Homo sapiens: one gene and its partners. Changing the gene in region 4 together with the main gene of any one other region gives a genetic interaction. Each region holds a gene or a part of one and is shown on either strand. Other genes may lie near its edges.

Region 1 (3,500 bases), on a different chromosome or scaffold from region 4:
AGCTCCTTGGCTTCCTTCTTCTGGTTTCGCGCCTCATACTCCAACCTGAGAGGGCAGGGTAAGTCTAGCAGAGAGCGCCCATGAGGCGGCTCCGAGGGGGAGGGCACGGTAAGTCTAGCGGAGAGCGCCCATGAGGCGGCTCCGAGGTGCCCCCACCCAACTGCACCTGTTGGTGATGATCCGCTGGACGATGAGGTCTGTGGTGAGGTTGCTGCCACTGTCAATCTGACGGAAGATGCCCCTTCTCTTGGGCTCCTGGGGGTCCAGAGAGGAGGAGCGGGATGAAGGTCCCTGCTGACCTCCCCAAGACCCATCTGATGCCCTGCCCCAGAGGGAGACCAGCGCCCAGGGTCCCATGGGAGTGGTGCAGTCGGAGCAGCTGCGCCACCATGCCCGTTTCCCAGGCAGGCACAGTGAGTCATTAAATGGCTGGGAGGTGCCAATGGCAACCCCTGTGCCCAGCAAGGGCCAGCATGACCCACCTGGTATGGGTCGGAGCCATCCCTGTCAGGGATAATTTCTGTCTTGCCGTGACACACCAGGTCCACCTGGAGAAGGAGTGGGGTCAGGAGCCCTCCCCGGGGAGGCAGCGGCCGTCGCCACCCACAGCCCAGCACAGGCCCCGGGGGTTGGGAGAGCTGACCCTGCCCTTTCCTCAGCCCAGGTACCTCCTGGGCCCCGCCTAGGAGCCCACAGCCAGCCTGCATTCCCAGCCCATGCAGGAACAGAGGTGAACAGAGGGAACGAGGTGAGCCCATGCGGAGCCTCACCTTGAAGTGACTTAGGAGCTCTGCTGTGACCGCGTACGGGGCTCCAATCACCACTTCTGACACGTACTGTGGGGACAGTGGGGGCAGAAAGACTTGCTCGGTCCCTGCTACTGGTAAGCCAGGGCCACAGGGTGGTGAGAGACGGCTCAGACATGGGGCGGGGCTGCCAGTGAGTAGCAGGGATGGGCTGGGCAGGCTGGGGACCCCTGGGGCTCCTCCATGAGACAAGAAGGAACAGCATCTGGAGACCTGACCACCCCTCCTCATGCCTCAACAAACAGGTATGGGCAGGTGCCACAGAACTCGGGGTGCTGGGTGCAGCTCTGCCAGTGACCCAAGCCCCCCTGCCCTGGCTCAGGGAGGCCCTTAGTAGGGGGGATGTTGTGGGAATGTCTCCCCATCCTTGGGCTGGCTCCTGGCCCCCACTCACCCGGCAGGCCAGCACGCTCAGAGTCCGTTCATGCAGATTCATGATGGGGTAGTTCTTCCCCTTGTAGTGATTGACCTCCTGCGGCCAGAGTGCGGCTAGCTCAGCCCGGAGACTTTTTGGGGGGACAGGGTGTGCCCCTCCCGGCTGTCCCTCATGGGAAGAAGTCGGGGAGGTTGCTCGCCCTTGTGGGGATGCCCCAGACAGGACAGCCCTGGACCCCAGAAGCCTACGATCACCCCCCAGGGTCTCCTGTGACTTCACCTGGGGCCCCTTCCCAGAGACCACCTGCACCTAACAGCAACGCTTAGGGCCCCTCGAGGGCCCATCAGCTGCCCAGGGGCCCAGGGAGCAAGAAGGCAGTGACCTGGTCAAAGTGTAAGCCCGCGATGATGTAGGGCCTCTCTGCCAGCCTGTGCACCTTCTCCAGGAAGTCCACATGCCCGATGTCTGCACCCAGGTTAAGAAGCAGTCGGGATGGGGATGACAGGGAGCAGCTCCCTGACAGCTCATGCCCAAGGGCCTCCCCGCCATCCTCCCTGCTGACAGCTGCTCCCCTGCAAACCAGCCAGCCCAGTCTGGGGGCCCCAAGGAGTCAAGTGAGGCCCCCGGGTCCCACCCCATGTGGCACATGTAGGGGAGCAGCAGAGGCCCAGAGGATACGGAACAGGTCGAAGGCACCAGCCACATAGATGACTGTCTCCCCTGGCTGGGGCTCCTTCCCAGAAGCAAACTGGATGATCTTCTGAGATGTCTGCAGGAACTGGGATACCCCGGTCCAGGGGTTCCGCCCACCAGGGCACTGCAAGCCAAGAGAGGGAGCAGGTTGGCGGGGGAGGCCTCCCAGGTGCTGCCCTCACCAGGTCACCAAACCCTCAGCTGTCACCTGCCAGCAATCCCATTTCCAGCCAGTCATCTCGGGCAGGGGACACACTGCCAGGCCAGGTGGCAGGTGGGACTGTGGCGCCACCCCACAACCACAGCAGGCACCGCAGCAGACACCACTTCAGCCCAGCAAGCGACCACCAGGAGGAGGCAAGGAGCCCTGTGGCAGGTGCACACAGCCCTTGGGAGGGACCTGGTACCCTGAGACCACTGTCTGGTCACCTGGGAGCAGCCTTCTGAGGAAAGTATGTCCCCGGCGGGTATCGGGTGAGGGGGCTACAATGGGAGAGAGGGCCAGGCCACTTGGTTAGAGGCCACCTGTCCACAGGCAAATCCTTGCTCCTCCAAGCAGTGGCTGCCGTGACCGGCCAGCCGGTGCCACCACCCGCCTGCCCTCCCTCCCAGCATCCACCAGTGAGCCAAACCTGGCAGTCAGTGCCTGGTCAGTGCCAGGGACAGAGGGAGGAGGGTGAGGCTCTGGGCTGGCCTTTCCCCAAGGGATGGCTGGGACAGGTGGCCGGGGGAGCCCCCTGCAGCTGCGTGCTCAGCTCTCCCTGCACAGCCGCACTCACCTTGCCAAAACTGTCTGCATACTCCCGGTACTCAGAGGACATCTCCTGCACAGAAGGTCAGAGCAGGGCTGAGGGGCCTGCCCTCCCGGCGTGGCCACCCCAGAACCGGCTGGGGATGGGGAGCAGTGGGCAGGAGGACCCTGAGAGGGCAGGGAGGTGCCCCTCCTTTCCCCTGGAGACCTCGACCCAGGGGCCTCGGGGATTCCGCCGCCGACTCACCTGGCTGCTGTGATGGGCTTTGGTTACCAGCAGCATGCGGCCCACGAGGTCTGTGGTGGACACCCCTTGCGTGCGCTTGCATTCTCTGGGGGACACAGTGGGAGTGGGGTCTCATCCTGGGACACTCGCAAGGCTCTGCCTCCTGCTACCACCACTAGGGACACTAGCAGCCCTGCTGTGGCAGAACCCACGGCTGCCCCAAAGACTGAGGGTCCCCTTCCTGTGCAAGGCCATAACAGAAAACCTGGGTTGGGAACATGGGGAAGGCCTCCACGCTTTTATTGACTGAAGGGAGTGGCAGGAGCACAGAAAAGGACCCTTGCTGGGGCCCAGGTGTGCAATGCCAGGGAGAGGATGGGCACTGGGGTAGCAGCTCTGCTTCCTGCCTCCCTCACACCCACGTCCTGCCCGCTGAGCATCTGCAGCTGAGTGAATTCTCAGCTGCAGCATCTCATGCGGGAGCCACTGGCCTCATGTCCCTGACGTCTGGTAATTCAGATATAGTGCCAGCTCCCCAGCAGTGCCAGCCACGTCCCCCGAGCTCAACAGCTGCCACCTCACAAAGCTGTGCCTTTGGAGCCCTGGGGCCATGGGTCTGCAGCACCAAATGGCAAGGGCCTCCAGGCC
Region 2 (3,500 bases), on a different chromosome or scaffold from region 4:
AGGGTTATGGTGAGGATTAAATGAAACAATACCCATCGGCTGTGCGTGGTGGCTCACGCCTGTAATCCCAGCATTTTGGGAGGCTGAGGTGAGAGGATGGCTTGAGCCCAGGAGTTCGAGGCCAGCCTGGGCAACATAGTGAGGCCCCATCTCCAGAAAAAAATTCTAAAAATTAGCTGTGTTTGGTGGTGCATGCCTGTATTCCCAGCTACACAGAAGGCTGAGGCGGGAGGATTGCTTGAACCCAGGAGATGGAGGCTGCCGTGAGCTATGATGGCCCTAGTGCACTTCAGCCTGGGTGACAGAGAAAGACCCTGTCTCAAAAAAAGAGAAAAGAATGCCCCATAAAATGCCATACCATTAGCTTTTCATAATGATATGAAGCAGGGGCTGAGCTCCGGTGACATGAAACAAGTCACAGTTTGCAGTGTCAAAATGACACTGTGTCCCCCGAGAACCTGTGTTTTCCAGGCAGCACCAGGAGAAAAACATCTCATAGCAGGGATTTAGAAGGTGAGCAGTCCTGCCAGTACCACTCGTATGCTCTGTCCAGTCGGGGACAGGGGGACAGAGGAGTCCGTTTCTTTTTTGATATGGCATCAGGCCACCAAGGCGAGGCCTTTCGAGGAGAAGAGCCTCAGCTTTCGAGGCAACTCAGCAGCCTTTCCTGAGCCCCTCCAGAGAGTGGGTAGGGTATGAGAAAAACCACAACAATCCTGGTTCTCAGATAATGCCTGCTTCCTCCAGCAGCGGGGGTGCTATTGTCTTGATTTCCACAGATACTCTCGGGCCATGTGGGGTGTGGCACAGCAAAGAGGATCCTCCCACTCATAAAAAGCTAAGTGTGAGATGGCAGCTTTGGGGCTCCAACCTCAGTTCGCTGCTGCCTGAACAGAAACCGGAGTTCACAGGAAGCAGAACCTCCAGCCCCACACCCTGGCCTTCCCCAGGACACAGAGAGGAATGTCCTCACCAGTGGGTAGCCCAAGCCTCAGCCCTCTTAGGATCAGAGAATTAACTGTGGGACACCAGGCTTAGGTCCCCCAATCCCACCCGCTTATGTGAAAACTCACCCACCCTCCCAAGTCAATGTCCCTGGAAAGGTAGGGCAGCAGCACAGAAGACCAGTCTCAGAAACAGGAAGGCGGGGTCAAGGTCAAGCCAGGCTGTGCCCTGGCCTGGTCTTAAGCAATCTCAGGCCAAGGAATGAAGGATGGTACTATTTTTAAACCTCATGTGACCTGCACGCAAACCCAGCCAGGTAAGGATGGAGCCCTGTTGTCAGGGGCTCTTTGATCATTCCAGGTGAGTAGGAAGTAGTTATGACAATGCCCCTCTCAACAATTCTTTGCCTTTTTTTTTTTTTTTTTGAGACGGAGTCTCGCTCTGTCGCCCAGGCTGGAGTGCAGTGGCGCGATCTCAGCTCACTGCAAGCTCCGCCTCCCGAGTTCACGTCATTCTCCTGCCTCAGCCTCCCGAGTAGCTGGGACTACAGGCACCCACCACCACGCCCGGCTAATTTTTTGTATTTTTAGTAGAGATGGGGTTTCACCTTGTTAGCCAGGATGGTCTCGATCTCCTGACCTCGTGATCCGCCCGCCTCAGCTTCCCAAAGTGCTGGGATTACATGCATGAGCCACTGTGCCCAGCCGATTCTTTGCCTTTTAATAACATGACTTTCCACAAGAAAAAGAAAAACGTGTGTGTGTGTGTGTATATCTATCTATCTATCTACACACACACATATACACACATGCACTGAATACTGACTATGTGCCGATGGCCCCACGGGGGAGGGTATTGTCATGCCCATTTCACCAGAGGAAGAAAATGAGACCAAAAGCTTCGGCCACTTGGTTAGGATCACCAGATACTAATGGGGAGCTGAGACTGAAACCCAGGTTGGCAAGTCTTTGTCAAGACCCCATCTTGGGAGGACAAGGGTCCAGGGAAGATACCTCTCTCTCCCCCAGGCTTGAGTTTCACTCTGAAGTCACAGAAGCATGGCAGAGATAAGCAAGCTAAGCCCTGGGTGAGGAAGTGACTTTCTCAAAGTAACATAGCAAATCAACGACCAAGTCAAGATGGTGGGAGTCCCCAACAAGCTGCCTCCTACACATCTTCAGGTCTCGACTTAAATGTCACTTCTTCAGGGAAGCCCTCCTTGACCACATAACGCATGGCCAGAGGCAGGCACATGGTGGGTGAGCTTACCTTCACTGTCGGTGAGCACTTCCATGCGCCCGCTGAACATGGCCTTCAGCATGGTGTCCTGCTTGGTCAGCGTCTGCATGGTGGTATAGTAGAGGGCTCCACCCACATTCAGCTTCACGTATTTGGAGCTGGGGCTCGTGCCCTTGAAGGAAGTGGTGCGGGTAGCAGCCGCTGGCACCGCTGAGCTCACCACACTTTCTCCTGACATCTCTTCCTGCCAGTGGAGAGGATACAGGGTCATGACATCAGGCCTGGTTGACTGCTTTCAGCCTGTGGATTCAATCTGGCCTCCAGATGTGTTTTGCTTGGGCCACGCATACACAGCATTTAAAAGTTTGCTTCCAATGTGGACAACTAAGGAGAGCTCACAGAAAAATCTGGACTTCTGGCTTCTCCTAAAATCAGAGGCCAACTGGGCTAGCAGGGGAACAACTGGTCAGAGCTGGGGTATTGGATGACCCCTAGAGAGGGCCATGCATCCCCTAGTTTGTCCCAAAACCCACCCAAAAAGCCTCATACACTGACCCTGCCTGTCGACCCTGCAGGCACAAGGGTGCCCCTAACTCTTGTGTTATAAGCACTTCCTTTCTGCCTAGCACCTGTATACATGAACACCCTGGCTGCACCCTAAAACAGCCTAAAGCACTGCCCAGGTCTCTTTACATTTCCTTATTGCCATGTACCACTCAATAGCTAGCTAAGTGTCATTTTTCAGCTGCATCACAGATGAAATAAGCTTTATGAAGTTGAATGGGATTCCAGCTGGCACTCCTATCACTTCCTGTAGGGAGAAGGTGTTTCTGAGGACTAAACAACAGACATGGAAACTTTTGGAACCAAGTTATTGCAAAATTAGACCTCCTAGACTAGTGCTGCCCAAAAGAGCAAGATCCCACTACCATCTCCCTGATAGCATGGCTGACTCTCTGTACATCTCAAAGAAATGGATACAGTGGCTGATTTACGCAGGCCTGGAAAGTGAGATTGGTATCCGGCACATGTGTACTCAGAGCAAACATGTCTGAAATGAACAGGTAAAACTGTAGAGGTGGAGATGTGCAAGGGTGGGCAGAATCTTTGCTGAATCTGGGGTAGCCCCCACGGCTGGCCCTACCATTCCCATTGAACATCAACAGTTTTTCACAGCACATCACCCTCAGACAAGGCCACTCTGTGCCCTTGCGACAAGACAAAAACAGGACCATTCAGTCATCATGTCCGGACACAGACAAAAACATAAACATTATCCAAAATACAAAAATGACCAAAGATCCCCTATCCTGGCT
Region 3 (3,500 bases), on a different chromosome or scaffold from region 4:
CTTCAGTGATATGTGACATATGACTATTAATAATCTACAATTCAATAAAATTGATGGTTTGAGGTCAAAAAAAAAAAAAAGTTAAAATAAATGACCAATGCTGGGTGCACTGGCTCATGCCTGTAATCCCAGCACTTTGTGAGGTTAGGACAGAAGGATTGCTTGAGCTCAGGAGACCAGCCTGGGCAAGATGGCAACATCTCATCTCTACAAAAAATAAGAATTAAAAAATAGCTAGGGGTAGTGGCGCACACCTGCAGTCCCAGCTACTCAGGAGGCTGAAGTGGTAGGACCGCTTGAGGCCAGGAGTCGAAGGCTACAATGAGCTATGATCATGTCACTGTACTCTGGCCTGGGCAACAGAGCAAGACCCTGTCTCTATAAAAAATAAATAAATAAATAAATAAAACTAATGACCACAAAAATAACTATGGTTACTTGAAAGTCTTTTGTTTGCCCCAGTGTATAAATTACAGTTAAAATATCAACTCTCAGAAATTGAGATAAGGATCTGACATGGGTAGCTAAAAGTAGAAACAATTCCGCCAGGTACAAATGTTCTTCCTTCTTTCCTCTATTTCTATGGGTTGAATTCTAAGCAACAAGGACTTAAATGCACAGGTGTGTTTTCTGGTTTTAGTTCCTATAATGAACAGCCCCTAAGCTGTCTGCCCAACAGTCCATCTCTTTCTGAGCACAGCTGCTGGCAACCCTGCCCACAGCTACAAGAGAATAAAAGAGACCACAAATACCTGGGCAGCCGCCTCCTCCTCAACATCAGGAATGAAGCACTCATTCTACATGGACTTACAGAACTTCTTAGAACCTGACACCAGTAGACACAATCTCCCAGGAGTTTGTTACTACAGAGACTGGCAATCTGGGGTCTTCCAGGCCATAGGCTAATTCATATCCACCCACCTCCCTGTCACTTGTGGGCCAAATAATTTAACAAATGCCAAGAGATAAGCTCAGGACACCAGGTGAAGAAAAGGCTAGCAGAGACCTCAGAGATGAACCAGCTCCATCTTGTATTCTGAGGCTCGGGACACTAGGAAAGAAGTGTAATATCTTGCTTAACGTCACACAGTGAGAAATGTTTGGTATTTAATTGTGGCAGCGGTCACATACTGTGAAATTTGTGAAAACTGGTCAAACTGTACTTTAAAAAGGTGAATTCTACTGTATACAAATTATGCCTCAATGAACCTAACTTTTTAAAGATGAAGTTAACTCCTAGTCTAGCAGTCTTTCTACTCAGCAGATTCTTGATAAGACAACATAAGAAATAATGTGAAAATACCCTGCAGGCTGCAAAAATATAGGCTGGTGGGTGGCAGTACCGTAACTTACCTCCTCTTCCCTGGAAATAATACCAATGGGGGAAAAGGAAAGGAAATAATCCAGTTTTGTAACAGCTATTAGAGTCTCACTAATCCAAAATGTGCCAACCTATTCAAGGCAAGAAGCAGCACAACTACTTTGAGTACCTGGTTCCAAAGATATTTTCTGATCATCATTAGTTTTAACAGCCCACCAGGGTACTGAGGAAACACTGACAAACACAAAAGACAAACATTTGGCAAATATTCCCTTTCAAGCTGTCCAATATCTAAGGCAGACGGATGTTTAAATATCATTTCGTAAAACAACAGTCCCCCGAAGGCGAGTCCAACAGCCCACTTACCTGCCCGTTCTTGGCGTAGCACACAGAGTTAGACTGAGTGTACTTGACAGCAATGGTGGCTACGATGAGGTCTCGGAGGGCAGACTCTGGCAACTGAAACACATACACAATGGTAAATTGCATGGGGCCTTTTAAACTCATTTAACTTTAAGCTTCTTTTTTTAAATATTATTTTTTGTGGTTTTTTTGAGTCAGAGTCTCACTCTGTCTCCCAGGCACAATGGGACAATCTCCAACGGCACAATCTCGGCTCACTGTAACCTCCACCTCCCGGGTGCAAGAGATTCTCACACTTCAATTACAGGCGCATGCACCACCATGCCTGGCTAATTTTTGTATTTTTAGTAGAGATGGGGTTTCACCATGTTGGCCAGGCTGGTCTCGAACTCCTGAGCTCAAGTCATCTACGTGCCTCAGCCTCCCAGAGTGCCAGGATTACAACAGGTGTGAGCCACCACACCTGGCCAACTTTAAGTTTCTTAGTTCTATTTAATGTAAAAGACCTACAACATAGTTATACCACTCAAATGACAGAGGGAAATTAACTGTTCTCCTACACACTACCATGATTTACTTAAATATTTAACACATTTGGGGTGGAACTTAGCACAATGCATCCATAGACACAAACTCATGTTATTTTGTAGCAATTGTGGATTAAGCCTTTTTATATCACATGAGGTAAGAACTACCATATCCATTCCAAAACTGACAAACAATATTTTCTTGACCAGAGTACTTTTAAATATCTGGAGACATGGTAAAATTTACGTTCAGAACCAATGCGGAGAATTGTTTCATAGACATCACAAATCGTTATGATGCACACAGACAGCCAAGACTTTGGAAAAATCAAATTACGATCATTTTCTCTTTTGTTTAGAATAACTTAAGTTGAAACTGTTCAAAAACCATTAGGAATTACCAGTCCAAATAGAACAACAAGAATAACGCCCAAAAATATCACTATCTTTAGTATCAGGCATGAATACAAATGGAAAAGAAGGATGATAGTCCACGTCTGTATGCTAAATGGACAGAGGATATTTGCTACAGCCAACAGATAAGTTGATAAATTTGACTTCAGTAAAATTAAGAACTTTTCCTCTGTAAAAGATTCCTCATTAAAGAGGATGAAAAGACAAGCTACGAACTAGGAGAAAATTATTAACAAACCTCATATCCAACAACAAACTAGCACCTAAAACATAAAAAAACTTTAAAAACTCTGTAACAGGACAGGCGCAGTGGCACATGCCTGTAATCCTAGCACTTTGGGAGGCCAAGGCGGGTGGACCACCTGAGGTCAGAAGTTCCAGGCCAGCCTGACCAACATGGTGAACCCCATCTCTACTAAAAATATAAAAATTTGCCAGGTGTGGTGGCGCATTCCTGTAATCCCAGCTACTTGGGAAGCTGAGACAGGAGAACCACTTGAACCCGGGTGGTGGAGGCTGCAGTGAGACAAGATCATGCCACTGCACTCCAGTCTAGGTGACAGAGCGAGACTTCATCTCAAAACAAAACAAAAAAACTCAGTAACAATCAAAAATTTAATTAGAAAATGGGCAAAAGACAGACATTTTCACCAAAAAGGATACACATGTAGCAAATAAGTACACAAAAAAATGTTCAACATCATGAGCTATTATGCAAATTAAAATCAGTGAGAGATTGCTACACAACTATCCCATGTCTTTAAAAAAAAAAAAAAAGTAGCAATACCAAAAGCTAGTAAGGATGCAGAGACATTGGATCACTCATCCATTGCTGGTGGGAATACAAAATGGTACAAGCCACTCTGGAAAACAAT
Region 4 (5,251 bases):
GTGGAAACGATGGTCCCCTAATCAAAACATGGTTGCATAAATGGACTCACTCCACTTAGGGGGAAAAAAGTTGTTTAAAGCCTATACATGGGGACCACACAACCCTGATTAATTTTTAAAGTTCTTTCTCCACTTTCTTTCTTAGAAAGTAGCTAAAAATAAAGGCTTGAAACTTGAAACAATGTAAGCAAGTAAACACACACACACACACACACACACACACACACACACACACACAGCTTTTCCCATATATGGCTGCGTTATTCTTCAGTCTTTGAAAAGGGCAAATGAAGAGATGGCCAACAACCAAAATAATCCTTCAGACATTTGAAAACGAGGAGAAAGAACTAGAAGAGTTGGTGAATGACAAATAATTCTGAGGCTCAATGGGGATAAATAACACCGAGAGGGATTAGTTGCCATAGTACTTTAAAAACATGGGCACATGCATTTTGACACTGGGCCCCTTCTATAAAGAGACTGTTTTGCCCTCTGGCCTCAGCACTGAGAAAACTACAACTGCAGTAATTTAACATAAAGGACTTAAAGAAGGAAACCAGTGCAGGGGCATGACTGAAAATTTAATTAAGGCCCTTCTCAATATAAAGTCTGTAAAGGAGATGAGGGCACATCTCAAGGTCAGAAGAAGGCGGGAGACTTGGGAAAGATTCAAATGAGATACGACAGCATAAATAGCAGAGGTAGGCTCTGGAGATCAGCTTCCTTATGATAGATGGTTATTACCGCGTCTTTTGGGTCCTACGTGAAATGTCTCTGTAGAAAAGATTAACACATGCATGTCAAAAAAAAATGCCACCTTGTGTGTGGGGGACAGAGGGGGGCACATTTTCATAGTGTTTTGTGGTTTTCAAGGCCGTGTCAGATGTAATCCTGGACACAAAGTAAAGCACCTGCTTTTCTTGATTTGGAAACTGAGACTCTGGGAGGCTAAGTGAACTCTACAAGTTCTATTTTTTTTTTTTTTTTTTTTGAGATGGAGTCTCACTCTGTCGCCCAGGCCACAGTGCAATGGCGCGATCTTAGCTCACTGCAACCCTCCACCTCCCGGGTTCAAGCGATTCTCCTGCCTCAGCCTCCTGAGTAGCTGGGATTACAGGTGCACACTATCACGCTCAGCTAATTTTTGTATTTTTAGTAGAGACGGGGTTTCACCATGTTGGTCAGGCTGGTCTCAAACTCCTCTCCTCGTGATCCACCCGCCTCGGCCTCCCAAAGTGCTGGAATTACAGGCATGAGTCACCGCGCCCGGCCCACAAGTTCTATTATGGGTGGTTTTGTGCAAGGGGGCTGGGGTACCAACAGGAAGCAAAATCTCCCAACATGCAGGCCACGGATCTTTCAACTCACAAGACCTTTGAAAGAACATTTGTCAGACTGCCAAGTTTAGGTATGGATTGTGGCTCATCCACTAAGTCTCTGTGACCATGAAGAAGTCGTTTCCCCTCTTCTGATTCTCATCCTAAACTGAATATGACAGTGCCGCCCTAGCTGGCAGAAGGTGGGTGGCGAGGAGGAAGAGAGAGACAAGCATGAGCTGAGTCACTCTGCTCTCTGCACTCGTCTGAGTCTGTCCTTGCAAATCACCAGATAGGACTGGTGGGCACCATCACGATTTCACTGATGGGAACAGCAGTCACATTACAGGAGAGGATACATACATGGAATCTAAAAAAAAATGATTTCCAAATAAGACTGGAAAACCTCTTCAATCTCCCAAAAATATAGTAATGAAAATGACTGAAGAGGCAACATGAATTCTAAAAGATCATCCCACTGCCTTTTTCTTTTTACTCCCTAAGGGATGGAACTTCCTCATGATGCTTTGGATTCTTTTTCTGAAAAGACACCCCACTTTTTGGTGACCCTGCATGCTTCTAATGTTTTTCTCATGCCTGCCTATAAAGGTTTTCTATTTGGGTTCAGAGTCAATAATAATAACAAGCAACAGTAAAGAAACAGCAGGCATTGTTTGTTGAGGGCCTATGATATACACTGTTGCTGAGCCCTTTCTAGCAACCATCCATAATCCATACAACTACCAGGTGATGTCAGCATTACCTTCTCTATGTTACAGATAAGAAAACTAAGCCTCAGAGAAGTTTAGTGACTTGGCCAAAGAAGGCCATCTTTATAACGGCAGGGCTGGGATTTAAACCATTGTATGACTGATTCCAAAGCCTGTTTTTTCTGTTCCTATTGCATTATGAGGCCTCTAGTCAGTTTACAAAACGCATCAAAGACTCTGGGCAATGCTTCTCGTTCGTGATTTCCTCCCATCACTATCCCGCAGAATGGAATACCTTCCAGGTGGTCAGAAAGCTCTCCCATTGAAATCCCAGCTGCAGGGTAAGTAGGGTGGATATGAAGTGGGCTGGGCAGATGGAATGGCAAAGAGACCCCACATGCTTTCCCCCTGTACCAAAAGAATTGTGATTTCACTTCCACATCACTAACCTGGTGAGGCACAAGCCCAAGAGAGGTTGGAGGCTCATTCATCCGATCGTCACTGCTGCTGGCAATGGCATAGCCCCTGAGGACAGGAAACAATCAGAGCTGCTCATTTAATCCAAGTTTAACACATGGGAGGATGATCTAGCAGAAATCTACATAAGATTCATAAGGATAACTAAAATGCCCCTTGCTGGGCAGTGTAAGTTAGCAAAAAACTAATTTCCCTGGGACAAAGGGCAAGAAGAGTAATTTAAACATGCATGGTTTGGAGTCAGAAAGACCTGAGCTTGTGACCATAGGCAAGTTGCTTAACTTTTCTGTGCTTCAGATCCATCATCTATAAAGTAGGAATGAGGGAGCTCTGATTAATAAATGAGGAATCTACTACATCAACTGCCGAGTGCAATGTTCGGCATATCAGAGGCCAATAAACATTAACTCACTTACTATGAAATAGTCTTGTCAAACATCACAGCACATTTCTGTACTGAAAATTTGAAGTGGAAAATTTTCTAACCTTAACTTCTTGAGCTGATATAAATGCTAATGAAATGGAAGAAATAAAAGTGAAGAATGAATTGGGCAGAACTAATACACTACTCTCTGAACAATGGAGTGATACTTGTGGCACCAAAAAGATGTGACACAGGACCTGGTGTTTAAACTATGACCAGGGCAAATGTGGCAGACAGAGGCTCAGTGTCAAGGAAGCATAAAGTCAGCTCTCAAAGATTTTATCCCAAATACTTCCTGTCAGAGAGTGGCAATAAACTTAAATGACAGATAGCTAAGGTGGATGACAAAGAGGAAGACAAAAAAGCCCCGCTTTTCATTTATCTCAGAGTACCCATACTAGTTACATATACAACCACAATTTTCAACTGCTGAGGAAAGCTTTGAGTCACACAAGAAATAGAATATTCATGTTAATTTGCATATTGACTTTCTGAGAACTGGAAAAATAAATCTTTCAAAAATTCGATTTTCTGCTGCCTGTATTGCAAACAGCATAACAAAGTCATTAAACATAGTCTGGAGCCACACTGGTTGAGCTAAACCCTGGCTTTTCCATTTACTATGTAAATTTGGCCACTTACTTATCCTCACTATGCCTTGATTTCCCCATCAAAACTGCGACTAATAATAATAGTTCTTTCCTAATATGTTTGCTATGAAGATTAAAGGAGGCCGGGTGCAATGGCTCACGCCTGTAATCCCAACACTTTGGGAGGATAAGGTGGGTGAATCACTTCTGATCACTGAGGTCAGAGGTTCAAGACTAGCCTGACCAACATGGCAAAACCCCATCTCTACTAAAAATACAAAAATCAGCCGGGCATGGTGGCGTATGCCTGTAATTCCAGCTACTTGGGAGGCTGAGGCAGGAGAATCACTTGAACCTAGAAGGCAGAGGTTGCAGTGAGCCAAAATCGTGCCATTACACTCCAGCCTGGGCAACAAGAGCGAAATTCCGTCTCGTTAAAAAAAAAAAAAAAGATTGAAGGAGGCAAAATTTCTAAGGTGCTTAGAACAGTGCCTAGCACAAAGTAAGCCCTATATAAGCGTTGGAAAAATAAAATAAACCATAGTGACTTTGTCCGGAAAGATGCAGAAATGTGGCCACAAAGGAAACATGCCAAGTTATCTCAGCCCAAAGAACCAGACCTGCTTTTTCTAGTCTTGTTTTTTTGAGGGTGAAATAGTGAAATTCTCTGTAAAGTCAGACTGAGAAAAGGCCATGGGAGACACTGATGAACAACTGCCTACAAAAGCTTTGTTTAAATACTCATCTCCTACTAGCAAACTCACCCTTCTGGATGCTGCAAAACAGATACCATCAATTCCACGGCCAGGGCTCCTGCAATCACGGCCAGTCCTGGACGACTCACAGTGCACTGCTGGTCCAAGGTCCGGTCTCTGGTTGACTGCAAAGAAACAATCATTGGTGTGTGCAGAACGTTCTACTCCATTCAACTCTAGCTGTCTCAAGTATGAAATCCTCTGTGACAAAGCTTTAAATTATAACCAGATGCTCATTGTTGGCAAAGAACATCCAGCCTCAAGTACATCATTTCTTGAGATTATCAAGATAAACAAAATATACAATTTAGGTAACTAAATGAGGTGATATGCTAAAAAGGATCAGTAGCCTAAACAGATTGGGGGATATTAACCAAAAATGAGGGCTTAGCTGCCTCATATAATGGAACTGCATCATGTGTTCCTTTAAGTGACTCAATTCAGTTCTACTGTGCTTGGTAGTTAAGTGACAGAGACACAGAAAGGAACAATGATTTGAAAAGTGCAAATGATTCTGCCCTGCCATTTTAACTGAGCTAACACCTCAAAGTGACCGTGAGATGGGAGCAACAATTTACTATTCCTGCGGCCCTCAGTTCCTATGTGCCTCTCACAACATGGGCATCACCTCTCTGTGTGATTCTAGGGTTTACTACAAGTATTTTTTTTTTCTACAACATGGCTCTAAGCACAAGCCTTTGCTGGTTCAACCAAAGAGAGTCTAACCATCCAACTCTGGGCAAATTAAGAGGTTGTTAGAGATATTTTTGACTCTATAAAAATTTTACCTTATGAGCAGATGGGACTTTACTGCAAGGGACCACTAATCGTATTTGTTGACAATCACTAAATAACAAGACCAGCTATATATTATAACACCATAACAGAGATCATCAAGCCATCTTTCTCCATAAAAGAGAATGGTCATCTTCTTTTCTTTATATTGGGAGGGCATAAAAGCCAGTCATCCAAAAGAGAT

The links.
Region 1: of ATG7 (region 4) and PCYT2, changing one suppresses a phenotype caused by changing the other (phenotypic suppression), as found in Homo sapiens cells (one large-scale study listed by BioGRID).
Region 2: of ATG7 (region 4) and KCTD10, changing one suppresses a phenotype caused by changing the other (phenotypic suppression), as found in Homo sapiens cells (one large-scale study listed by BioGRID).
Region 3: of ATG7 (region 4) and ATIC, changing one suppresses a phenotype caused by changing the other (phenotypic suppression), as found in Homo sapiens cells (one large-scale study listed by BioGRID).

What each region holds. Positions count from the first base shown.
Region 1 is NC_000017.11:81,904,900-81,908,399, forward strand, and holds part of PCYT2 (ethanolamine-phosphate cytidylyltransferase), read right to left. Parts: intron 2,959-3,500; coding exon 2,874-2,958; intron 2,700-2,873; coding exon 2,655-2,699; intron 2,359-2,654; coding exon of another isoform or gene 2,305-2,358; intron 2,000-2,304; coding exon 1,861-1,999; intron 1,648-1,860; coding exon 1,565-1,647; intron 1,279-1,564; coding exon 1,201-1,278; intron 837-1,200; coding exon 771-836; intron 549-770; coding exon 483-548; intron 256-482; coding exon 167-255; intron 46-166; coding exon 1-45. UniProt on the Homo sapiens protein: Ethanolamine-phosphate cytidylyltransferase that catalyzes the second step in the synthesis of phosphatidylethanolamine (PE) from ethanolamine via the CDP-ethanolamine pathway.
Region 2 is NC_000012.12:109,467,301-109,470,800, forward strand, and holds part of KCTD10 (BTB/POZ domain-containing adapter for CUL3-mediated RhoA degradation protein 3), read right to left. Parts: intron 2,429-3,500; coding exon 2,215-2,428; intron 1-2,214. UniProt on the Homo sapiens protein: Substrate-specific adapter of a BCR (BTB-CUL3-RBX1) E3 ubiquitin-protein ligase complex. The BCR(BACURD3) E3 ubiquitin ligase complex mediates the ubiquitination of target proteins, leading to their degradation by the proteasome.
Region 3 is NC_000002.12:215,343,059-215,346,558, reverse strand, and holds part of ATIC (bifunctional purine biosynthesis protein ATIC), read right to left. Parts: intron 1,781-3,500; coding exon 1,688-1,780; intron 1-1,687. UniProt on the Homo sapiens protein: Bifunctional enzyme that catalyzes the last two steps of purine biosynthesis.
Region 4 is NC_000003.12:11,361,959-11,367,209, reverse strand, and holds part of ATG7 (ubiquitin-like modifier-activating enzyme ATG7), read right to left. Parts: intron 4,398-5,251; coding exon 4,282-4,397; intron 2,552-4,281; coding exon 2,476-2,551; intron 1-2,475. UniProt on the Homo sapiens protein: E1-like activating enzyme involved in the 2 ubiquitin-like systems required for cytoplasm to vacuole transport (Cvt) and autophagy.